3 separate regions of the Homo sapiens genome follow, and all the other regions are linked to region 3. The links come from fine-mapping of genetic effects on plasma protein levels. A gene starts in region 3. Each other region holds a variant in brackets. All regions are shown on one strand. Distances are between the middles of the regions.

Region 1 (8,256 bases), 45 kb after region 3:
GTGCAGGGGCGCAATCTCGGCTCACTGCAACCTCCCCCTCCCAGGTTCAAGAGATTCTCCTGCCTCAGCCTCCCGAGTAGCTGGGACTATAGGGGTGCGCCCCCACGCCCAGCTAATTTTTGTTTTGTTTTTTTTTTAAGACAGTCTCGCACTGTCGCCCCGGCTGGAGTCTGGAGTGCAGCGGCACGATCTCGGCTCACTGCAACCTCCGCCTCCGCCTCCGCCTCCGCCTCCTGGGTTCAAGCCATTCTCCTGCCTCAGCCTCTTGAGTAGTTGGGATTACAGGCGCCCGCCACCATGCCCAGCTAATTTTTGTATTTTTAGTAGAGACGGGGTTTCACCATGTTGGCCAGGCTGGTCTCAAACTCCCGACCTCGTGATTCGCCTGCCTCGGCCTCCCAAAGTGCTGGGATTACAGGCGTGAGCCACCGCACCTGGCCATTTTTTGTATTTTTAGTGGATACTGGGTTTCACCATGTTAGTCCGGTTGGTCTCGATCTCTTGACCTCGTGATCCACCCACCTCAGCCTCCCAGAGTGCTGGGATTACAGGCGTGAGCCACCGCACCCGACCGCACTCGTTCTTTTTAATGGCTGCATACTGTTCTGTTGCCTGGATGTGCCATAATTTATTTAAGCAGTTCTGCACTGATGGACTGCTTCTGCTATCTCAATATCATAAGCAATGCCACAGCAAATATCCCTGTGTGGACATCTTTGTATACATATGTATTTCTCTAAGATAAATTCCTGGAGGTAAAACTAGCAAAAGAAAGACTATAAATATTTATAAATACAATAGGTGGATATTGTTAAGAAACAGTGTGTGCCTATAATCCCAGCTACTTGGGAGTCTGAGGCAGGAAGATTGTTTGAGCCCAGGAGTTTGAGGCCAGTGCAACATAGTGAGATCCTGTCTGAAAAATAAACAAACAACTAAGTAAATAATTGCCCTCCAGTAAGGTTTACTCATTTACATCCCTGCCAATAGGCTGGTCTCAGAGCTGGTTGGAAAGTTCCTTCTTTGATCCAAAAAAAAAAAAAATCATTTGGGTATGTATCTTTTTCTTTTCTTTCTTTCTTTCTTTTTTTTTTCTTTTAACTAGAGACAAAAGCTGGGTATGGTGGCTCACGCCTATAATCCCAGCATTCTGGGAGGCTAAGGCTGGCAGATCACCTGAGGTCAGGAGTTCAAGACCAGCCTGCCCAACATGGTGAGATCCCATCTCTAATAAAAATTAGCTGGGCGTGGTGGTGGGTGCCTGTAATCCCAACTACTTGGGAGGCTGAGGCACAAGAATCGCTTGAACCCGGGAGGCGGAGGTTGCAGTGGGCCGAGGTGGTGCCATTGCACTCCAGCCTGGGTGACAACAACAACAACAACAACAAAATAGAGACAGGGTCTCCTTATGTTACCCAGGCTGGTCTCAAACTCCTGGGCTCAAGCAATCCTCCCACCTTAGCCTCCCAAAGTGCTGGGTTACAGGCATGAGCCACTGTGCCCAGCCTCATTAAATATTTTACCTCTTTCTTGTATGTTGCAATATTTTTCTCTTCCTGTTTTGACCTTGCTCATGGTGCCTTTTATTTTTATTTAATTAATTAATTTATTGTCTAAGACAGAGTCTCAGTTTTATTACCCAGACTGGTGTGATCATAACTCACTTCAGCCTTGATCTCCTGGGCTCAAGCAATCCTCCTGCCTCAGCCTCCCGAGTACCTGGGACTACAGGCACGTGATACTACACCTGGATAATTTTTTTGATTTTCCATCAGTAGAGACAGAGTCCCTCTGTGTTGCCCAGGCTGTTCTCAAACTCCTGGCCTCAAGCAACCCTCCCGCCTCATACTCCCAAATGCTAGGATTACAGGCGTGAGCCACGGTGCCTGGCCTGTGCCTCTTGTTGTACAGAAAATTTTTATATTTGTGTGGCCAAATCTGGTTTAGTGAGTTACTGAGTTGAGTTCTAGATAAAGTTTCAATCACTTGGCTTAGCCTTGAGTATTTTTGTTTTGTTTTGTTTGTTTTTGTTTTTTTTGAGACGGAGTCTCGCTCTGTCGCCCAGGCTGGAGTGCAGTGGCGCGATCTCGGCTCACTGCAAGCTCCGCCTCCCGGGTTCACGCCATTCTTCTGCCTCAGCCTCCCGAGTAGAGCTGGGACTACAGGTGCCCGCCACCATGCCAGCTAATTTTTTGTATTTTTAGTAGAGACGGGGTTTCACCTTGAGTATTTTATAAGTGTCCTCAGCAAACAAGTTTCTGGATCTAATCTTCCTCTCAAAAAGGGGTGCTTACAAAGCTGCAACATGAGGTTCCTGACTGTCAACTGTGTGTGACTTTAGACAAGTAATTTCTTCTCTCTGGGTCTCTATTTTTCTACCTGTCAAATAGTGGGCATCAGGCCAGGCACGGTGGCTCACATCTGTAATCCCAGCACTTTGGGAGGCCAAAGCAGGCAGATTACCCAAGGTCAGAAGTTCGAAACCAGTCTGGCCAACATGGTGAAACCCCGTCTCCACTAAAAATACAAAAATTAACCAGGCATGGTGGTGCGTGCCTGTAGTCCCAGCTACTTGGGAGGCTGAGGCAGGAGAATCACTTGAACCCAGGAGGCGGAGGTTGCAGGGAGCCGCGATTGTGCCACTGCACTCCAGCCTGGGTGACATGAGTGAGACCCTGTCTCAAAATAAATAAATAAATAAATAAATAAATAAATAAATAAATAAAAGCCTCTCCCGCAAAGCTGCTGGGAGGATCAAGTGGGCACAAACATGCTTCTTAAACTTACAGATGTGGAAAGTGGGGAGTTTCTACTGCCTTGTGGGCTCTTGGACTGAGGTTCATGGAGGCAAGCACTTCCTCTGGTTCTCTGCTAAATCCCCGCCCTGGGCTTCGGGCCTGGCACAGAACAGGCCCTGTGGCAAATGCTGGTGGAGGAGATGGAAGAGCTTAGCACTGGATATCTGAGTCAGTGCAGGCCTGGTGGTTGGCACCCTGGAGTCTGGGACCATATAGATTGTGTGACCTTTACCTCCCAGAGTACACAGGATCACAATAGCACCTGCCTCTGGGTTGTTGAGAGGATGAGATCAAAGAAATCCCACAAATAGCTTGGTGTGTAGAGGAATCCAGAGTGTTGAAAGCTGATCTATTCCACGTCCCCTGGGGCCCAGGCTACCAGTACCTGACTTTGCCCCCAGGCCTGCTGCTGGAAGGTGCTAGAATTGCCTGGATACAGCTGGGCCGGAGGATGGGCCCAGGCTGAGCTGGACAGTTAACCCCTGCTGTCCTGGCAGGGTTACCCACCACTGACGAAGATCCTGGCAAGTTTCTTTGGGGAGCTGCTGGGTCAGGAGATAGACCCGCTCAGGAATGTGCTGGTGACTGTTGGTGGCTATGGGGCCCTGTTCACAGCCTTCCAGGCCCTGGTGGACGAAGGAGACGAGGTGAGTGGGCAAGACTTGGGCTGAGTGGGACTGAGAGGTCAGGGCCATGCTGACTCCAGCTGATTTGACCCTTATATCAGGTCATC[A/G]TCATCGAACCCTTTTTTGACTGCTACGAGCCCATGACAATGATGGCAGGGGGTCGTCCTGTGTTTGTGTCCCTGAAGCCGGTAAGGATGCTAGGTAGAGGATGGATGGGCAGAGGGATCCAAGGCGTGGGCTGAGTTGGACCCTGGGAGTTGGAAAAGGAGGAAAGAAGTGAAGGAAGCCAGTTCCTCTAAGCTGGGAGGGCAGAGGGGAGGTGTGTGTGTTGGGATCCCAGGGGAGAGAAGGTGGGGATAGATGCTGGGGAAGACCTGCATGTCAGGTGGTTAAGTGGTACCACCCCATGCCACCTGCTCTTGCAGGGTCCCATCCAGAATGGAGAACTGGGTTCCAGCAGCAACTGGCAGCTGGACCCCATGGAGCTGGCCGGCAAATTCACATCACGCACCAAAGCCCTGGTCCTCAACACCCCCAACAACCCCCTGGGCAAGGTACTGGAGGGACCTCCTTCCCTGGCCCCCTGCGGACCTGGTCATGTCTCCTGCACTGTTACTGAGTTGCTGCTGTGGGGCCTCCGTTTCTTCGTTTGTGTGTGGGAGGGCCACACACAATGAGCACTGAGGACCAAGACTCCAGAGGTCCCAGGACAGGGGCAAGAATCCCCAGGGAAGGCCTGAGGGCTGGGACAGTGAACTGGGCTGGGAGCCACCATCACTTCCCAGTGACCCTGGAATAGTGACTATGCCTCTCGAAGTATCTCATCTGTAATGTGGGAACCTGAGGGAACTGACCTCATGGTCAGTGTTGCAGGGATCCAATGTGATGGTGCAGAACAGCCCTTAGCACTGGGCTTGGCTGTATTCGCCATTTATTTATTTTTTTGAGACGGAGTCTCGCTCTGTCTCCCAGGCTGGAGTGCAGTGGTGTGATCTTGGCTCATTGCAACCTCTGCCTCCTGGGTTCAAGCAATTCTCCTGCCTCAGCCTCCCGAGTAGCTGGGATTACAGGCACCCGCCACCATGCCCAGCTAATTTTTGTGTTTTTAGTAGAGACGGGGTTTCTCCATGTTGGCCAGGCTGGTCTTAAACTCCTGACCTCCAGTGTTCCGCCCGCCTCGGCCTCCCAAAGTGCTAGGATTACAGGCGTGAGCCACCGCACCTGGCCGCAGCTGTGTTCTTTAACCTCTCTGAGTAGGCCTCTGTGTTTGGGGACGGTCCCAGCTGCAGGTCTGTGCTCTCCTTGGGCATCTGCAGGTGTTCTCCAGGGAAGAGCTGGAGCTGGTGGCCAGCCTTTGCCAGCAGCATGACGTGGTGTGTATCACTGATGAAGTCTACCAGTGGATGGTCTACGACGGGCACCAGCACATCAGCATTGGTGAGCCAAGCCAGCCTGGGGCCCCTCCCCTGCACATTGGTGGGAGGGCCTTGACCCCACCTGAGAGTCAGCGCAGGCCTGGTAGTTAGAACCCAGGGTTATGGAGCCCTGCAGATCCTGTGACCTTTGCCTCCCAGAGTACACAGTGTCACAGTAGCACCTGCCTCCCTGGTTGTCGAAAGGATGAGGTCAAAGAAATCCTATGCCGAGCATGGTGGGTCACACCTGTAATCCCAGCACTTTGGGAGGCTGAGGCTGGCAGATCACTTGAGGTCAGGAGTTTGAGACCAGCCTGGCCAACATGGTGAAACCCTGTCTGTACTAAAAGTACAAAAATTAGCTGGGCATGGTGGCACGTGCCTGTAGTCCCAGCTACTCAGGAAGCTGAGGTAGGAGGATCACTGGAACCTGGGAGGCGGAGGTTGCAGTGAGGCAAGATGGCGCCATTGCATTCCTGCCTGGGCAACAGAGCGAGACTCCATCTCAAAAAAAAAAAAAACAAAGAAAGAAATGGGGGGTGGAGGGAGGGAGGGAGAGAGAGAGAGAGAGAAAGAAGGAAGGAAGGAAAGGAAAGGAAGAAAGAAAGAAAAAAAATTGTGCAAATAACTTAGTATGTAGAGGAATCCAGGGTGTCAAAAGCCTATGCGTGTCCCCTGGGGCCCAGACCACCATCCTCCCCCGTCCCCCTCACCCCAGTCTCAGCAGCTGTTCTGTTCGGCCTTGGGCAGCCAGCCTCCCTGGCATGTGGGAACGGACCCTGACCATCGGCAGCGCCGGCAAGACCTTCAGCGCCACTGGCTGGAAGGTGAGTTGCTGAGGGTGGGAGGTCACCACCCCCTGCAAGATCCTTGGCAAGTGAGGTGGGCCTGAGAATGAAGAAGGCTTTAGCCAGGTCTGGAAGGACCTCTCCCCCTACCTGCGCCCCTGCTGCAGGTGGGCTGGGTCCTGGGTCCAGATCACATCATGAAGCACCTGCGGACCGTGCACCAGAACTCCGTCTTCCACTGCCCCACGCAGAGCCAGGTGAAGAGGGGCAGGACGTCACGGGGGAGTGGGGGGACAACAAAAGAGCCCAGGCTGGCCCCCGCGTCAGGGAACAGCTGATCTATCTGTGTGTCCATCTGCCCTGCCCAGGCTGCAGTAGCCGAGAGCTTTGAACGGGAGCAGCTGCTCTTCCGCCAACCCAGCAGCTACTTTGTGCAGTTCCCGCAGGCCATGCAGCGCTGCCGTGACCACATGATACGTAGCCTACAGTCAGTGGGCCTGAAGCCCATCATCCCTCAGGGCAGCTACTTCCTCATCACAGACATCTCAGACTTCAGTGAGTGAGACTTGCCGGTCTGGGCAGGGCGCAGGGGCTGGAGGCTGCAGGGGGCTCAGTGTGGCCTCTGTCTCCCAGAGAGGAAGATGCCTGACTTGCCTGGAGCTGTGGATGAGCCCTATGACAGACGCTTCGTCAAGTGGATGATCAAGAACAAGGTGGGCTGGGCCTCTGCCAGGCAGCCATGTATGGTTTCACAGGTTGTGTGCTGCTCAAGGGTGCCCAGGCAAGAGGCTCCTGGGCTAGATCTTAGTCCAGCCTCTGCCGTCAACCTTGGGGCAGGGTTGTATCCACTTCAGAGAATGAGGAGGCTGTTTCTTTTTTTCTTTCTTTTTTTTTTTTGGTTGAGATGGAGTCTCACTCTTGCCCAGGCTGGAGTGCAGTGGCGCGATCTTGGCTCACTGCAAGCTCTGCCCCCCAGGTTCACGCCATTCTCCTGCCTCAGCCTCCCGAGTAGCTGGGACCACAGGCTACTTTTTTTTGCCCGGCTAATTTTTTTTGTATTTTTGGTAGAGACGGGGTTTCACCATGTTAGCCAGGTTGGTCTTGATCTCCTGACCTTGTAATCCACCTGCCTCGGCCTCCCAAAGTGCTGGGATTACAGGCGTGAGCCACTGCTCCTGGCCTTTTTTTTTTTTTTTTTTTTTTTGAGACAGAGTCTCACTCTGTCGCCTAGGTGGGAGTGCAGTGGCGCAATCTCAGCACACTGCAACCTCCACCTCCAGGGTTCAAGCGATTCTCCTCCCTTAGCCTCCTGAGTAGTTGGGTAACTGGGATTACAGGCATGTACAACCACGCCTGGCTAATTTTTGTATTTTTAGTAGAGACGGGGTTTCACCATGTTGGTCAGGCTAGTCTCCAACTCCTGACCTCAGATGATCCACTCCCCTTGGCCTCCCAAAGTGCTGGGATTACAGGCGTGAGCCACCGTGCCTGGCCTGAGGAACCTGTTTCTAACTTGCACAGAGATGCTGTGTGGGCTGGCAGGATTTCCTGCCTCTTTGGATCTCCATCTTCCCATCTGTACAGTGAGGAGTTGGCCCATTAACTCTTGAGTTCATCCAGGTTTGATCTGTGACTCTAAGGCTTTGTTCTTCTCTGGCTCTGCCCTGACCTGCTCCATGATCCTCCCTCTGTCAGCCTCCCTCTGCCCTCTATACCCAGGGAGGGACTTGGAATGATGTTCTGGGATTCTTTTCTTCTGACTTTGTGTTTGTTTTTGTTTTGGATGGATTTTCTCTCTTTCGCCCAGGCTGCGGTGAAGTGGCGCAATCTGGCTCACTGCAACCTCCACCCCCGGGTTCAAGCAATTCTCCTGCCTCAGCCTCCCAAGTAGCTGGGATTACAGGCATGCGCCACCACACCCGGCCAATTTTTGTATTTTTGGTAGAGACGGGGTTTAGCCATGTTGGCCAGGCTGGTCTTGAACTCCTGACCTCAGGTGATCCACCCGTCTCAGCCTCCCAAAGTGCTGGGATTATAGGCGTGAGCCACCGCACCTGGCCTTGTTCCTCTGACTTTGATGCAGCTCTAGGTGCTGGATTGGAGCTAACTCTCCTTCCCCGCCTGGTCGTGGGAACCTCTCTGTCCCCTCCGGAGCCAAGGCCTGCTGGGCCACGAGGCCGTGTTGAGACATGTCCTTCCTCCTCCCCAGGGCTTGGTGGCCATCCCTGTCTCCATCTTCTATAGTGTGCCACATCAGAAGCACTTTGACCACTATATCCGCTTCTGTTTTGTGAAGGTAAAGGGCAGGGCTGGGGGAGGAAAGACCTCACAGAGCTTCCCAAGGCCGGCTGGGCACATGGGGAGAGTGTAGGACTAATCTGTGCTGGCGCAGGATGAAGCCACGCTCCAGGCCATGGACGAGAAGCTGCGGAAGTGGAAGGTGGAACTCTAGCCCTGAAGTCACGCCTTGGCCCTGACATCCCCACATGCCCGCAGAGATCCTCTTTGAGTGTCTGTCTTTGTCCAGGTTTCAGACATTTCTAGGTTGGGGAAGATGCTATTGGGAAACCTCTTCTCCGTGACACAGAATGTTCTGGGTGGGAGCCGCCCTTCTTCATCTTAGAGAACC
Region 2 (8,000 bases), 570 kb after region 3:
AATTAGACAGGTGTGGTGGCACATGCCTATAATCCCAGGTTCTCAGGAGGCTGAGGCAGGAGAATTGCTTGAACCCGGGAGTCGGAGGTTGCGGTGAGCTTAGGTTGTGCCATTGCACTCTAGCCTGGACAATAAGAGTGAAACTGTCTCAAAAAAAAAAAAAAATTAGCCAGGTGGGGTGGCATATGCCTGTAGTTCCAGCTACTCGGGAGGTTGAGGTGGGAGAATCACTTGAGCCCAGGAGTTCAGAGGCTGCAGTGAGCCGAGACTGTGCCAGTGCACTCCAGCCTGGGTGACAGAGTGAGACTCTGTCTCCAAAAAAAATAAAGAGGCTGAGGTGGGCGGATCACGAGGTCAGGAAATCGAGACCATCCTGGCTAATACGGTGATACCCTGTCTCTACTAAAAATACAAAGAAATTAGCCGGGCGTGGTGGTGGGCGCCTGTAGTCCCAGCTACTCCAGAGGCTGAGGCAGGAGAATGGCGTGAACCCAGGAGGCGGAGCTTGCAGTGAGCGGAGATCGTGCCACTGCACTCCAGCCTGGGCGACACAGCGAGACTCAGTCTCAAAAAAAAAAAAAGTGGCCAGGTGTGGTGGCTCACGCCTGTAATCGCTGCACTTTGGGAGGCCAAGGTGGGCGGATCACTTGAGGTCAGGAGTTCAAGACATGGCAAAGCCCCGTCTCTAGTAAAAATTAGCTGGGCATGATAGCACGTACCTGTAATCCCAGCTACTCAGGAGGCTGAGTTACGAGGAGTCGCACGAACCTGGGAGGCAGAGGTTGTGGTGAGCCATGATCGTGCCACTGCACTCCAGCCTGGGTGAAAGAGTGAGACTCTGCCTCAAAAAAAAAAAAAAAAGGTATATGGGACGACATGCCTAGGTTATATGCAAATACTATGCCATTTTATATCAGGGACTTGAACATCTACAAATTTTGGTATCTGCAAGGGATCCTGGACCCAATCCCCTTGGATACCAAGGGACAACTGTAGTATTCTATTTATTTAGAGACAGGGTCTCACTCTGTCACCCAGGCTGGAGGGCAGTGGTGAGATCTCGGCTCACTGAAACCTCTGCCTCCTGAGTTCAAGCAGTCTTCTCACCTAAGCCTCCCGAGTAGCTGGGACTACAGGCACAGGCCACTATGCCTGGCTAATTTTTTTTTTTTTTTTGAGACGGAGTCATGCTCTGTTGCCCAGGCTGGAGTGCAGTGGCACGATCTCGGCTCACTGCAAGCTTCTCCTCCTGGGTTCACGCCATTCTCCTGCCTCAGCCTCCCGAGTAGCTGGGACTACAGGCGCCCGCCACCACGCCCAGCTAATTTTTTGTATTTTTAGTAGAGACGGGGTTTCACCATGTTAGGCAGGATAGTCTCGATCTCCTGACCTCGTGATCCACCCGCCTCGGCCTCCCAAAGTGCTGGGATTACAGGTGTGAGCCACCACGCCCGGCCATGCCTGGCTAATTTTTGTATTTTTTGTAGAGATGGGGTTTTGTCACGTTGCCCATGCTAGTATTGAACTCCTGGGCTCAAGTGATCTGCCTGCCTCGGCGTCTCAAAGTGCTGGGATTATAAGCGTGAGCCCTTGCAACTGGTCTCTTGATTTATTTTGAACCACTGAAAAATGCAAAAACCATTCTTAACTCATAGGCCACAAAAAACAAGCCAGATGCGGTGGCTCATTCATGTAATCCCAGCACTTTGGGAGGCCGAGGCAGGCGGATCACTTGAGGTCAAGAGTTCAAGACCAGCCTGGCCAACATGATGAAACTCCGTCTCTACTAAAAATACAAAAAATTAGCTAGGTATGGAGGCAGGTGCCTGTAATCCTAGCTACTCAGGAGGCTGAGGCATGAGAATCGCTTGAATCTGGGAGGTGGAGGTTGCAGTGAGTTGAGATGGCGCCACTGCACTCCAGCCTGGGTGACAAAGTGAGACTCCATCTCAAAACAAAACAAAACAAAACAAGCAAACACACACACACAAAAAAAAAACAGTCTTCAGTCTTCAGGTTTGACTTGTGGACTGTAGTTTGCTGACCCTTTTTCTATTCTGGGACTCCAGGTGAGAAATGAGACCCTAGGTAGAAGTCCTAAGGTAGGGGTTTTGGGTTTCTGGGAAAGAATAAGTTTATTTATTTATTTATTTGACAGAGTCTTGCTCTGTTGCCCAGGCTGGAGTCTGGAGTGCAGTGGTGTGATCTCAGCTCACTGCAACCTCCATCTCCCAGGTTCAAGCTATTCTCTTGCCTCAGCCTCCCAAGTAGCTGGGATTACAGGTGTGTGCCACCACACCCAGCTAATTTTTGTATTTTTAGTAGAGATGGGGTTTCACCATGTTGGCCAGGCTGGTCTCGAACTCCTGACCTCAGGTGATCCGCCCACCTTGGCCTCCCAAAGTGCTGGGATTACAGGTGTGAGCCACTGCGCCCAGCCGAAAGAGTGATTTTTTTACTGAATAAAGTTGCCCAACAATGGAACTGGTTCTGGTAATGTGTCCCCATCACTAGATGTGATTAAGGCATGTGTCAGGGAATCTAGAGGTTTGACCAGAAACCTCAAAAACCCGTTGGACTTGTGATATTCAATGACTCTATTATATGGTAACAATAAGAAGTATAATGTATTGAGTCGCCACTCTGTACTAGGCATTGTGTTAAGCTTCCCCCAAGTACAATCCTCATTGATATCACCACAGTGCTGTGAGATGGGTCCTATTTTCATTTCACAAGGGAGAAAACTGAGGCTCAGTGTTGACATTTAGTAACATGGCCTGGATTCAATAGGCCCTTAACTACCCTGGACTCTTCCCCTAGATTCCTCTTAATCTGTAGAAGTGTAAACACTTCTGGCTCATTCCTGCATTTATTCTTTCAGTAGTTCTTTCCTGAGCAGCTAGTGAGTTGACACACCCAGGTTCTGCCTTAAGGAGCTCACAGCCTCCATTTTCCTCCAGGGACTCTTCCTCAGTAGAGCTGGGCAGGGAACCCCGCACTCTTGACCTTCAGTGTTACGCCAGTCTTCTTAGAGCCTCTCACTGGGAGACTGATGATAGGCAGAGTAAGAGGCATCTTGGGCTGCCCTTTGGATCCCAGGGCACTGAGGATACAGTTCAGGGTCCCAGATTCCATGACGGGGAAGCCTGAGAGTCTGGCCTGATGCTAGTTTGGGCTCCATGAGGCCCATTCTGAGAACGAGGTCAACATGCAGCCCAAAGCCATCCTGGGGTGGCATTTAGTTGAGAAAATGGACCTTGTTTGTTTCTTTCCAGTATGTGGACCAGCATTCGCCCATCTCAAGGTTGGCGTGGGACATCGGTTGGATGCCCAGGCTTCTGGAGTACTTGGTAGGTGATGTGAGAAGCCTGGGGGTACAGTGATAAGGCTTGAGAAAAGATCCTGAAGCTACCAGGAGCCCAGCCCACTTCTTACCTGGCACCCACGTCCCACCACTCCTCTCCTGCCCTGATTCCTGCCCCAAGGCTGATCAGCTGGGGAGTGGATAGGTGGGACGGAGGTAATCACAGGTTAATACCACAGTCACCCACCTTTATTCAGTGATTCCCACACATGACATAGTTCGAGGCCCTTTATGCACATTTATTTACCACAACAACTTTATTAGGTAGATACTATATGATTTTATGGAAGAAGAAAGTAGGATTTAGGTGACTTGTTCTGGGTCCCATGGCCAGTGAATACCCCTGGTCCGGAGAAGGAAAACCATCATTGCATCATGGGGCAGCCAGGCGCGTGACTCTGGACCTAATGGCCAGGGCCTGCATGTGGCTGGGTCTGGACACACAAAGCCCTAGTCATGAGCCATCTGTGTCCCCAGGGTCAGGTGGTGCCCACATCCTCCAGCCGCGACAGTCACAGTCCCCTTGTCTTGCTTCCTGAGGCACAGGCAGGCAGACATGATCTCATGCCCCCTCTCCCTGTTCTGTCTCCCCACGAGTGAATGCAGAGTTATTCTGTCCCTCAGCCAGAGGGAGAAACAGACCGGGAGAAAGGCAGGAAGTGACCACAGTGGCCACCGTTTATTGGGCCCTTCCTCTGTGCCGACTGCACAGCACCCACAGGAATCAGTATTTTTTTTTTTTCCTGAGACAGAGTCTTGCTCTGTCTCCCAGGCTGGAGTGCAATGGCATGATCTCGGCTCACTGGAACCTCCGCCTCCTGGGTTCAAGCAATTCTCCCTGCCTTAGCCTCCCGAGTAGGTGGGATTACAGGTGCCCGCCACCACGCCTGGCTAATTTTTTTTTTTTTTTTTTGTGAGACGGAGTCTCACTCTTGTTGCCCAAGCTGGAGTGTAGTGTAGCACCACACCTGGTTAATTTTGTATTTTTTGGTAGAGATGGGGTTTCACCATGTTGGCCAAGCTGGTCTCAAACTCCTGACCTCAGGTGATCCACCTGCCTCGGCCTCCCAAAGTTCTGGGATTACAGGCATGAGCCACTGCGCCTGGCCTTCAGACAGTATTTTTACCCCCATTTTACTGATGGGGAACTTGACGCTCAAAGAGGCTAAAGATTATACTCAGAGCTGTCCCTGATTTGAGTGCAGGTTTGTGTGACTAGGCCAGGGATCTCTTCCTCTCAGGTGTCAGAATCCTGTGGAGAGCTTGGCAGGGATCCTAGGCCCCCTCCAACCATGAGTCAGATTCAGTGCATATGGGTAAGGCCCAGCAATCTGCATGTGATATATACCCAGAGGGGTGCACCTGCCCCCTGTAGAAGATCTTTTTGCCTTCTTGTTGCCTTTGGCAGCATCAGAAAAGGGAGTATTCTGATGGTGGGGGTAGGGGTGGGGATACTTAGGGGAATGGGAAGGGGGTCCCAGGTGTGAGATGACGCTGGCTGCTTTTCAGTGCTCGGCGTGGGACATGGATGCAGGCTCCTCACCGATATGTACAATGCTCATCTTACCAAGGTACGAGGGTCTGGGGACAGCCTGCTTCTCCCTTGGTCCTTTCCTGGGGGTCACCAGCAGGATTCTGAAGCTTAGAGGATTCCGTGGGGGAACACCCAAGCCATAAGCAAGCATTTTTTTGATGATCGTGTGCTGTGCAGGGGCTGTAATAATAATAACAATAATAACTACCAGTGTTAGTGTATGCCGACTACTCTGTGCTGAGCACTGTACGTGGATTCCTTTAGGGAAGCCTCACAGCCTCCCTGTAAAGTGGAATCTGTTGTTAGCCACATTTCACAGATGAGAGAACTGAGGCTCAGAGAGGAGATGTTACTTACCTAGGTCATGTAGTTGTTAGGGCTTTAAGAGCTGGGATTTGAACCTAGGTCTCTCCAACACCAGAGCTTGATCATGATGCCATTCCCTATTCTGTCCCAAGACTGAGAGGTAGATGTCAGCATCCTACCCACAGGGAGCTTACCATCCAGAGGTGGGGTCGGGGCTATGGAGTCTGATACCACAAAGTATGTACGCAGGTGCCACGTTATGGGGCCCATGTTTTTAGTGGTTAAGGGCACAAATTCTGGAGCCAAATGGCTTCAGTTTGAACCCCAGCTTCTACCACTCTGACAGCTGTGTGTCCTTGGGTAGATTACCTAATTAATATCTGTGTGCCTCAGTTTCCTCATCTGTAAAATGGGAATGAGGGCCAGGTGTGGTGACTCATACCTGTAATCCCAGTACTTTGGGAGGCTGAGGCAGGAGGATTGCTTGAGCCCAGGAATTTGAGACCAGTCTGGGCAACATAGCAAGACTCCATCTCTATTTACAAAATTTTTTTAAATTATAAAAATTTTAAAAATTGTGGCCGGGCTCAGTGGCTCCTGCCACTTTGGGAGGCTGAGGTGGGTGGGTCACTTGAGGCCAGGAGTTCAAGACCAGCCTGGACAACATGGTGAAAACCTGTCTCTACTAAAAATACAAAAAAATTAGCCAGGCTGGTGGCGCATGCCTGTCCTCCCAGCTACTCGACGATCCACCCGCCTCTGTCTCCCAAAGTGCTGGGATTATACGTGTGAGTCACTGTATCCAGCCAATCATTACTTATCTGTGGCAGATGGGGTTAGCTGCACAGATTCAGAGGAGGGGGAGTTTTTACAAGCAGGGATGAGCAAGGGCCTGATCTGGGCCATGGAATCTCATTCTATTTAGAGGCGTGGAGAGAAGCCTACAGGGCATGCTAGAAGGGGCTCGGGGTGATAAATTGCCGAGTTAGGTTGGAGAGGAGAAACATGGAGGCCTGGGGTGGCCACAGGGTGGCTGTCAGCGGTCAGTACCTTTGGAGGCTGCCAGTGCTGGTTGTCATGGAAACCAGCCAGCAGTCTTGTAGGAAGCCTGCTGACTGGGAGCCAGGTACCATGTCCTGCTGAATCCAGGCAGCAGTACTGTGAGACTGGCCCTGTTACTGTCCCCAGGTGACAGGAGAGCTTGAATACAAAGAGAGCAAGAGCTGCTGAAGGCCACATGACAGAGCTGGTGCCCTTCCTCCTGGGGCTGTGGAGCAGCTGGGCAGGGGCTGGGCACATGAGCTTCCTGAGGGAGACCTGAGGACCCCCCACCCCCAGCTTCTGGGGCAGGGGCTACTAGGGCTTAGAATGGGGTCACTGACGGATCTTTACCTCCCTGTCCTTGAAGGATTACACAGTGCGTGGCCTCCTGGGCAAAGCTACAGATGACTTCCGTGAGGACGGGAGGCTGGTAGAGAAGACAACCTATGGTGAGAACCGGAAGTGGCTGCCGCTGCCTCCCTCCGCATTTGCTTTCCCTGAGTCCTCTCCCCGCCCTAGGCCACGCTGGCCCCTTCTCAGTTCCACTGCACACACTAGGCTTGGGCTGAGGCTTTGGCCACGGGATCTGTGCTCCAGGAGCATCCT[C/G]TACTCCCCTGCTTGCCTAGCTCAAATGTAACGTCACTTCCAAAGACTCTAGTTTCTCTCCATCTCGTCAGTCTTTGACCTTTTCCTTTTCTTTTCTTTTTTTTTTTTTTTTTTTGAGACGGAGTCTCGCTCTGTCGCCCAGGCTGGAGTGCAGTGGCACGATCTCAGCTCGCTGCAAGCACCACCTCCCGGGTTCACGCCATTCTCCTGCCTCAGCCTCCCTAGTAGCTGGGACTACAGGCGCCCGCCACCACGCCCGGCTTTTTTTTTTTTGTATTTTTAGTAGAGATGGGAGACGGGGTTTCACCATGTTAGCCAAGATGGTCTGGATCTCCTGACCTCATGATCCGCCCTCCTTGGCCTCCCAAAGTGCTGGGATTACAGGCATGAGCCACCGCGCCCAGCCTTTCCTTTTCTTTTCTTTTTTTTTTTTTGAAACGATGTCTCGCTCTGTCGCCCAGGCTGGAGTGCAGTGGCGCGATCTTGGCTTACTGCAACCTCCACCTCCCAGGTTCAAGCAATTCTCCTGCCTCAGCCTTCGGAGTAGCTGAGATTACAGGTGCACACCACCACACCCAGCTAATGTTTTGTATTTTTAGTAGAAATTGGGTTTCACCCTGTTGGCCAGTCTGGTCTGGAACTCCTGACCTCAGGTATTCTGCCCACCTCGGCCTCCCAAAGTGCTGGGATTACAGGTGTGAGTCACCACGCCTGGCTACTGTTCTAAATTTTAAAAAGAGGCCGGGCGCAGTGGCTCACGCCTGTAATCCCAGCACTTTGGGAGGTCGAGATGGGTGGATCACAAGGTCAGGAGTTTGAGACCAGCCTGGCTGATATGGTAAAACCCGTCTCTAGTAAAAATACAAAAATTAGCCGGGCGTGGTGGCAGGCACCTGTAGTCCCAGCTACTCAGGAGGCTGAGGCAGGAGAATCGCTTGAACCTGGGAGGCGGAGGTTGCAGTGAGCTGAGATTGCACCACTGCACTCCAGCCTGGCAACAAAGCGAGACTCCGTCTCAAAAAAAAAAAAAAAAAATAATAATAATACAAAAAATTAGCCGGGCATGGTAGTGCACGCCTATAATCCCAGGTACTCGGGAGGCTGAGGCAGGAGAATCGTTTGAACCTAGGAGGTGAAGTTTGCAGTTTG
Region 3 (8,256 bases):
CACGAGTCGCTAGCTCCCTTATCGTGATCAGCTCAATCCTGATGACGGCTCTGATTCAAGACTCTGATAAGTCCTGCAGCAAGGATAACAAGAAGTCTTTGTTTCCTGGAATTATCAAACCACTGTGACCGAAGAAACTGGTGTCTCATGGAACACACTTGGGAAACGTGGTCCACGCTTTTTGGGAAATGTGGTCATGAGGCTGCATTAGCAAGACCCAGACTGATAAGATCTGGGGTGAAGGAGAAAAAACAGAGGTTTGCAATGAAACAACTCAGCATTCAATGAGTGCGGCAAGCACACATTACTCAGCGGGAGAAGGAGGAAGAGAGTAATTCTGCTGTCTGCCACTCTACCCTGGACCTACAGCAAGAAAAGCAAAGGACTGTGGGGATGGAGATGCTACCCTTTGCTCCCCAGGCTGGGAAGGGCACTTGACTGGAGCTGGAGCTGGCTGAGAAGGAGAGGGGCCCAGTCCTTACCCCAAGGATGGCTCTGCTATCTGCGCGTCGGCTGTCGGTGCTGAGGCTGGCCCGCGTCTGCCTGTGCAGGATCCTGGCATTCCTTTTGCTCCATGGACGCTGCCTCCCTACAAGGAAGCGAGAGCTGCCGTCAGCAGGCACATGTGTGACTGTCGCAGTTACCTGCCACACCGCCAGCACTTCCTGAGAGCCTGCTTGGTAGCAGGCCCTTGGCTGGGCTCTGGGGTGACAAAAGAGGTTTTTTTTGTATAGTGGTGCAATCTCGGTTCACTGCAACCTCCGCCTCCCGCATTCAAGTGATTCTCCTGCCTCAGCCTCTCGAGTAGATGGGATTTCAGGTGCGCACCACCAAGCCTGGCTAATTTTTTGTATTTTTAGTAGAGACAGCGTTTCCCCATGTTAGCCAGGCTGCTCTCAAACTCCTAACCTCCAGGGATCTGCCCGCCTCGGCCTCCCAAAGTATTGGGATTACAGGCATGAGCCACCGCGCCTGGCAGACAAAAGAGGTTCTGACAGAGCACCTCCCTCCAGAACCTGGTCTACTGAGGAGGTGCCAAGTCAGTAGCGACGGTCTGAGAGCTCAGAGCTCTGCTGCGGGGGAGCCAGGAGAAGCACTAGACCCAGACTAGTGGGGTCAGGGAAGGCTTTCTGGAGGAGGAGTTGTCTGAGTTGACTCCTAAGAGTAGGAGCTGGAAAAAGAGCATTCCAGGCAGGAGGAACAGCACATGTTTACCTGGAGGAGAGAGTACATGGCATCTGGAGAAGGCTTGCGGGCTCGGCATGGCGAGATCCAGAGCCAGAGAGGGGAAGTGGCAAGAGATGAGCCACAGTGGGGTGGCTGGGTCAGGCAGAGACCAGCCAGTGCCCAGACTCCAACTTAAACACCAAATCCACCCATCATCTCCGACAGTCAACCAGCCTCTGGTGAGCATCTACTCCATATGCGCCAGACACTGTGCAGAACTGTGCATGGGAGTGGCAGGGTAGGGAAAGCTGTGATCACTACGACACGGGTTTCGGGGAGCCAGGAGCTGGGAGAGTGGCCCAGCCACCAGAGAGAGCCAAAGGATCAGCAGGAGTTACCCAGGAAGGAGGAGGGCGGGGGTAGACAAAGACACCTGGACTGATCTAGGAGGGATGGCTGTTTTTCCATCATTTCTACCACTGGGTATTTACTATATTGACTAAGTTCCAGGCCCTGTGCTGGGAGGGCAGACATGGAAGATGGTCTCCGCCGTCATGGGAGGTAGGTCAATAACCCTGCAATTCCATACGGGGTGGTGGTGACTAGGCAGTAAAGTACCTACAGCTATATAGGCACGGAGGCCATCCAAGCCAACCTCTACCTCACTCTACCCTCCTTGTCAAGGATGGGGCACCCACTGAGGCTGGGTGGTCCAATCACCTGCCCATGGCAGAGCCAGGTCCAGAACTTGGGCCCCTGGACTCCCTGTCACTAATTATTCTAGTCCCTCCTCTTCCAGAAAGCATACCCTGACCACCCCCTACATAACCACCCAGAGCTAATTCCTTCTTCCTCTGGGCTGCCTCTGTAATATTTCTATTAATATGGTGGCCACAGTATATCAGAACTTATGTGTCTTCTGGTTTGCCTGTCCTCCCAGACTGCAGCTCTCAGGAGGCCAGGGATGTTTTCCCAGCCATCCCAGGCCCAAGACAGGCACTTTCTAAAGAATGGCTGAATGAATGAATGAATGAATGAATGAGTCAAGGCATGGAGAGACACTGTGCTGGGCTCTAAGAGCCCCACATCCATCCCACCTGAATCTCCAAGAGGTCTTGGCCCATCAGTGTGTGCCTCAGTTTCTCCATGTGAAAACCTGGAATCAGCTCTACTCTAAGACGAGGCAGTCAGGAACCAGGCTGATTTCCCTCCAACTCCTACAGGCAAGGTCCAGGCCAAGCCAGGCAGCAACCCAGGGTCCGGCCACTTCCCTGAGTTCTGACCCACGGCAGTGATCCCCAGGATTCCCTACAGTCCAGAAAGGTCATTCAAGAGTTTGCAAAGGAAACGGCTTCCTGGTGGGTGTGCCTAAGGGATGGAGAACCACCACATCTAGTCAAGTTCTGGGGGGAAGTCATGAACATTTCCTGTGCCCCCGCTCTGTTTTTTTTTTTGTTTTTTTGAGATGGAATTTTGCTCTTCTTGCCCAAGCTGGAGTGCAATGGCGCGATCTTGGCTCACTGCAACCTCTGCCTGCTGGGTTCAAGCAATTCTCCTGCCTCAGCCTCCCGAATAGCTGGGATTACGGGTGCGCAGCCCCATGCCTGGCTAATTTTTTGTATTTTTAGTAGAGACAAGGTTTCACTATGTTGGCCAGGCTGGTCTCGAACTCCTGACCTCGTGATCTGCCCGCTTCAGCCTCCCAACGTGCTGGGATTACAGGCGTGAGCCACCACGCCCGGCCCTGCACCCCCTGCTCTGTACCCTATGGTCCCTAGAACGCAGAGGGCATCAGACCCCATGCCAAAGCCCTGAGACCAGGAAAACAAGGAAGCAGAGACCAGCCACCCAGTCACTCATCCCTGGCATGTCCACAACAGCCTCCTCCAGCACAGGTCATCTGTCCTTGCCTCACTTCATGAGCCAGAGGAAGACTTGACCTTCATGGAAGCAACACCAGTGAGACTGAGCAATCAGCACTGCCCAGTCTCTCTGAACAAACTCCCACTCCCACATCCCCTCCACAGGAAGTATCAGCAACAGCCGATCTCCTCCCGCTTCTTACAGCCTGTCTGTCTGCCAGGTTGTCTGCTCCAAAGGGCAGAATACAGTTTGGCAGGGGTTAAGAGTACTACTAACAGAAGAGGTGGAAGAGGTCCTTGGGAACTTCGGGCTCCCCCAGTTCCCTTCCTCTTACCAGGTGCTCTCCCTCCACACCTCATTCTCAAAAGGCTTCCTGAGGTAGGGCAGGGGAAGAGGAGTCAGTGGAAGTGTGGCTCACCCAGGAACCGCCCACCCTTCCAGCCAAGTCTCCATCAGGAGGCGGCTACCAGACAACCCCCGACCCATCCCTCCTTCCCAAAAAAGGCAACAATCGCAACAGCTGAGAACCGGCAGACCTCGGTTCACCCCGGTCCAGATCAAGGGGAAGAAGCAGTCAGCGAAAGCAGCAGAATCATCATGAACTCCATGACCCCAGCTATGCCCCTTCAGCCTGGGAGCTCAGTTTGCTGGGTATCCAGCTCACCTAGGGCTGCACCAGGCCTGGACCTCACTGGATCTCGCCTCGCCCTCGGGCCCACCTGAATGCACAGGACTGGGACAGGGTCTGGGTTCTTAGATTCCGGACCGGTCTTCCCAAATATCCCATCCCAGAAAGGCCCCAAGAGCCTAGCCGGGGATCCTGCCCCCAAGTCAGGGCACTGCCCCCATCGGAACGATAGGAAGGAGGGGTGCAAGGGAAGAGAAGGGGACCAGGAACTCAGGAGAAGACAGCTAAGGAAATCTTTGAAAAAGAAATGGCAAGGAGAGAGCCCAGAGGTGGAACCTCTAGGAACGGGAGAGTGTGTGTGGAGGGGTGAGGATCTGGGGGGACCCAGGGGATGACAAGGGGACATGGGGGAGCCGAGGCGGAAACTCCTGGTTTCTGAAGCACAAGGAGGCACAGGGGTGCCTGGGAGGGGGCTCGCGCGCCGCGGAGCCGGCGAGAAGGTGGTGCCCCGGAGACTCCGGGCACTGGGGAGCCCAGAGGTAGGCCGAACACCGCGGGAGGTCCCCAGGGGGCCGGCCCGGAGACAGAGCCCCAGATGCCCCGGGCGCCCCGGGCCGGGCAGCTGGCCGAGGGCGTGTGTAAGTGGGTTTCGAGAGGTGACAGCTCGCGCCCCTTTCCCCACCCCGTCCACTCACCTGGGCTCGCCGCGCCCGGCCGCCCGGCAGGCAGCCCCAGGCCCCGGCCGCTCCGTCCCGCCGCCGGCCGCAGCGCTGCTCCGGCGCCTCCTTTTGTTTGTCCCTCACTGCACCACTCAGCCTCCTCCGCCCCGGAAGTGACGTCACCGCCGGGCGCGAACGCGGCGGCCAGGGCGTCGCCATCTTTATGAGGAGAATTCTAGCGGCGCTTTCTCCCGCTCTCGCCTCCGCGCTAGCGCCCTGCTGCTTCGGGGCGGAAGTAGCGGAGCCGGGCTCGGCCCCCTTAAAGGGACAGGGACTGCTGCAACCTACGGGGTGTACTTGGGAACGAGGGGTGAAGCGGCCCAGGTGAGGGTGAGTAGCTGTGTCGGAGCGCCACTTCCCCAAGGTCAGGTGCCGAGGCTGGGAGGGTCGGCTAACGGTTCCGAGCTTGGTTGTGCTAGAGTGCTTAATGAGTTTGATGCTACTAAGTATAACGGAGTGGCTGCACAGAATGATTGAGCCGCCCGCGGGAATCAACTGCGCGTGCTGCTCGCTGATTCTCGCTCGGACACTGGGGCTGGTCCTGTCTGCACCCAAATCCCCCTCCCACGACCGCGCCGGTGGAGATGATACCCGAGACAACAGAATTCTGGACAGATCTGGGGTTGGAATTGGGTCCCCAGACTCCAACTCTGCAGCTCCATAAATCCCGCTGGGTCCTCGCAAATTCCCTGGCTGATAACAGTACCGGCAACCAAATTAAAAAATAATCCATACAGTGGAATACTGTGCAGCCATTAAGACGAACAATGTTTAATATGCACTAATGTAGGGTGACTTCTAAGATACCTTAGGTTAAAAAAGGAAACAACAGTAAAAACAGCGTTGGGCCGGTTGCGGTGGCTCACGTCTGTAATCCCAGCACTTTGGGAGGCCGAGGCGGGCGGATCACGAGGTCAGGAGATCGAGACCATCCTGGCTAACTTGGTGAAACCTCATCTCTACTAAAAATACAAAAAAATCAGCCGGGCGTGGTGGTGGGCGCCTGTAGTCCCAGCTACTCTGGAGGCTGAGGCAGGAGAATGGCATGAACTCGGGAGGTGGAGCTTGCAGTGAGCCGAGATCGCGCCGCTGCACTCCAGCCTGGGCGACAGAGCGAGACTCCGTCTAAAAAAAGAAAAAACAGCGTTGATGGGTGCTATCCATCTTTGCGTAGAAGGACGCCTGAGGGTGGGCGTATCTGCGGGTGTGCGCGCCAGCTGTCTGATAAGATGCACAAGAAGTTGTTAATTGCGGTTGTCTCCGACAGAATTGGGGTCTTGGGTACCTGGGCCAGGGCGAGAAATTTACTACCATGTGCACAGATAGATAATTAAAAATAAGATGATGAAGATAGTCGTGGCTCCCATCCATCACGTGTTAAGCCAATGCCTAGTTTCACTTCTGTTGGGAGGTCTTATTTTTCCCTTTTAATAGAAGAGAAAAGAACCTTAGAGAGGTTAGGAAACTTAGCAATATCATAGCCAGGGCCGGGCGCGGTGGTTCACACCTGTAATCCCAGCACTTTGGGAGGCTGAGGCGGGCGGATCACGAGGTCAGTAGATCGAGACCATCCTGGCTAACACGGTGAAACCCCGTCTCTACTAAAAATACAAAAAAATTAGCCGGGTGTGGTGGCGAGCGCCTGTGGTCCCAGCTACTCGGGAGGCTGAGGCAGGAGAATGGCATGAACCTGGGAGGCAGAGCTTGCAGTGAGCTGAGATTGGGCCACTGCACTTCAGCCTGGGCAACAGAGCAAGACTCCGTCTAAAAAAAAAAAAAAATCATAGCCAGGAAGTGGAGAAGCTGGAATTTGAACCCTGGGAGATTTACACTAATGCCCATGATCTAGCTTATCCCTCGCCACTGAGATGCTTTTTCTGTTGTCAGTCACGCAACACCCGTCTTGGGGCCTGGCACACAACAGGCATCCAGTAACTATTTATTGACATGATGTGTGGTGTGAAAAGCAAACGTTGAAGGTCAGAGCCCAGGCTTAAAGTCCAGGGCTTGGGCACCTCTTTCCAACCTGTGGACTGTGGGCCTGCCAGGTACTCCGTGGGCCTCCATGTCCCCGCCTGTAAAATGAACAACCAGAACCACAGTTGTAGACAGTGAATGTTCCCACGTATTATACTTTGTATTTTACACGCAGATAAGTCTCATTTTACAGATAAGTGAGGCACAGAGAGATTAAGAAAGTTGCCAGAAGGGGGTTCCTACAGGTCTCCCTCCCTCCCTAGGAAGGCTGCTGGGCTCCCAGGCCTCTCCCTTAGCTTCCCAGGATCATCTGTGCTAATGCCTGGGGGACCTACTCTGTGCTGGGTGAGCTGCCAGAGGCTGAGGATCTGGTGGAGAACAGGTCAAGCACATAGTTCCTGTCCTTGGAGTTGAGCGCCCCCGTGCTGAGTACTTTGAGGGCGGAAGCCCAGGTCTTGGGACCACCTGGGAGGGGACATGTGGCTTAGCCTGGGTGGAGTCAGAAGGGGCTTCTCCAAGGAAGGGACTTTCAATGTGACTGGAAACTAGGATGTCCAGAAGGAGAAATGATGAGGCTGGAGACTCAAGGAGAGATGGGCTCCTACCCTGGACTTGGCCTTGGTGTCCACTAAGAAACTGAGGGTGACCAACAGGATTGGAGAATATACAAGTTAGACCCATTCAGTCTGGCTTCAGCAGGAATCTTTCCTCCCGGAGAATGCCTCCATTAGGTGCCAACCACCAGAACGCCACACTAACCTCTCCAAGCTCCAAAGAGTAGGGCGCCTGATTTTATAATCCAGGTGGGGGCGATAAAGGAATGCAGGAGCCTTCACAGCCATGAGGCAGTCACTGTAACTCCTGCCAGAACAGACCTGGGGCCACATCCCACTCCTGGATGGCACTGCCAGTTCCCTGCATAATTCCTTTTTTTTTTTTTGAGACGGAGTCTCACTCTGTCGCCCAGGCTGGAGTGCAGTGGTGCAATCTCGGCTCACTGCAAGCTCCACCTCCCGGGTTCACTCCATTCTCCTGCCTCAGCCTCCCAAGTAGCTGGGACTACAGGCACCCGCCACCACGCCTGGCTAATTTTTTGTATTTTTAGTAGAGACGGGGTTTCACCGTGTTAGCCAGGATGGTCTCTATCTCCTGACCTTGTGATCCGCCCACCTCGGCCTCCCAAAGTGCTGGGATTACAGGCGTGAGCCACCGCGCCCGGCCTCCCGGCATAATTTTTAAAATGCTCATCCTATGCCCTCATTCCCCAGCTTGCAGCTGGGGGCCTCCTGGTGCTTTTCTGGGACTTCGAGTAAGTCATTTCCCCTCTCTAAGCCTCAGTTTCCCCACCTGTAAAGCTGATGCCACCTCCTCCAAGGCTCCCGCGAGGCTATCTGCCTATCTGTTGTGTGTTCCTTTAATGTATGGGAGTGAGATTGTGGTTTTTGAATCTGGGTCCTGTGCCAGGAGGAATAAGTGGTGAGATACCTACTGTTTGTGTCACTCAGGTCTTCCACCAACCCCTCCAGCCTGTAAACCTGCCGTCTGGACTCCAGAAGTCATTTCTCTCTCCTCTGCCAATTCCTAAGCCCAGGGGGACTGTGTCTGAGTGACGCAATTGTTAGATCTCCTCAGACAGGCTGTTCTCTCCAGGAAAACATTGGCTCAACAAATTGTCACCAAACATTTGTCTTCAGGGAATTCTGTTTTTTTTCTATCAAAAAAAATTTGGATTCATTATATAATAAGAGATTTTTCATTTTGCTTGGTTACTAATTTTATGGAAAGCCTGGTAGGTTTAAATGTTAATAGCTTGTTGACTGGGTGTGGTGGTTCATGCCTATAATCCCAGTAATTTGGAAGGCTGAGGTGGGACTATCGCTTGAGCTCAGGAGTTCGAGACCA

Alleles and levels. Positions count from the first base shown, and alleles are read on the strand shown. Strength reflects both the effect of a copy and how common the allele is.
For the plasma level of the protein whose gene starts at base 4,654 in region 3, allele A in region 1 goes with a higher level than allele G (moderate association).
In carriers of allele G in region 2, the plasma level of the protein whose gene starts at base 4,654 in region 3 tends to be lower than with C alone (weak association).

What was found. PIP is the chance, under the fine-mapping model, that this variant and not a neighbour inherited with it causes the effect. Protein levels are from antibody-based Olink assays in UK Biobank. Linkage for the fine-mapping came from a reference panel and not from the study's own genotypes, which makes the PIPs less certain.
Region 1: its variant is fine-mapped to the plasma level of the KYAT1 protein (UK Biobank, PIP above 0.99). The variant lies in the coding sequence of KYAT1. If it changes the protein, the assay may bind it differently, which can mimic a change of level.
Region 2: its variant is fine-mapped to the plasma level of the KYAT1 protein (UK Biobank, PIP above 0.99).

Annotation. Positions count from the first base shown.
Region 1 is chr9:128,833,407-128,841,662 of GRCh38, reverse strand. It overlaps KYAT1-SPOUT1 (KYAT1-SPOUT1 readthrough), which reads left to right. Exons shown (of 25, transcript NR_182311.1): 4 at 3,296-3,445; 5 at 3,526-3,612; 6 at 3,850-3,978; 7 at 4,741-4,861; 8 at 5,590-5,666; 9 at 5,795-5,884; 10 at 5,996-6,182; 11 at 6,261-6,340; 12 at 7,837-7,923; 13 at 8,020-8,256. It overlaps KYAT1 (kynurenine aminotransferase 1), which reads left to right. Exons shown (of 13, transcript NM_004059.5): 4 at 3,296-3,445; 5 at 3,526-3,612; 6 at 3,850-3,978; 7 at 4,741-4,861; 8 at 5,590-5,666; 9 at 5,795-5,884; 10 at 5,996-6,182; 11 at 6,261-6,340; 12 at 7,837-7,923; 13 at 8,020-8,256. The coding sequence ends at 8,079. Among named protein-coding and RNA genes, the nearest start is that of SPOUT1, 7.7 kb to the right of the region's middle. RefSeq lists an enhancer at 2,831-3,331. The variant A/G (reference allele first, on the strand shown) is at 3,532.
Region 2 is chr9:128,312,502-128,320,501 of GRCh38, reverse strand. It overlaps TRUB2 (TruB pseudouridine synthase family member 2), which reads left to right. Exons shown (of 8, transcript NM_015679.3): 3 at 3,276-3,350; 4 at 4,874-4,935; 5 at 6,613-6,694. LOC105376286 (a long non-coding RNA gene) reads right to left here and starts at 6,951. Exons shown (of 3, transcript XR_930377.3): 1 at 6,597-6,951; 2 at 6,255-6,404; 3 at 3,603-5,078. The variant C/G (reference allele first, on the strand shown) is at 6,852.
Region 3 is chr9:128,878,348-128,886,603 of GRCh38, reverse strand. KYAT1 (kynurenine aminotransferase 1) reads left to right here and starts at 4,654. Exons shown (of 13, transcript NM_004059.5): 1 at 4,654-4,707. KYAT1-SPOUT1 (KYAT1-SPOUT1 readthrough) reads left to right here and starts at 4,654. Exons shown (of 25, transcript NR_182311.1): 1 at 4,654-4,707. It overlaps LRRC8A (leucine rich repeat containing 8 VRAC subunit A), which reads right to left and starts at 4,471. Exons shown (of 4, transcript NM_019594.4): 1 at 4,354-4,471; 2 at 483-589. RefSeq lists enhancers at 396-1,158, 4,435-4,584 and a silencer at 4,125-4,404.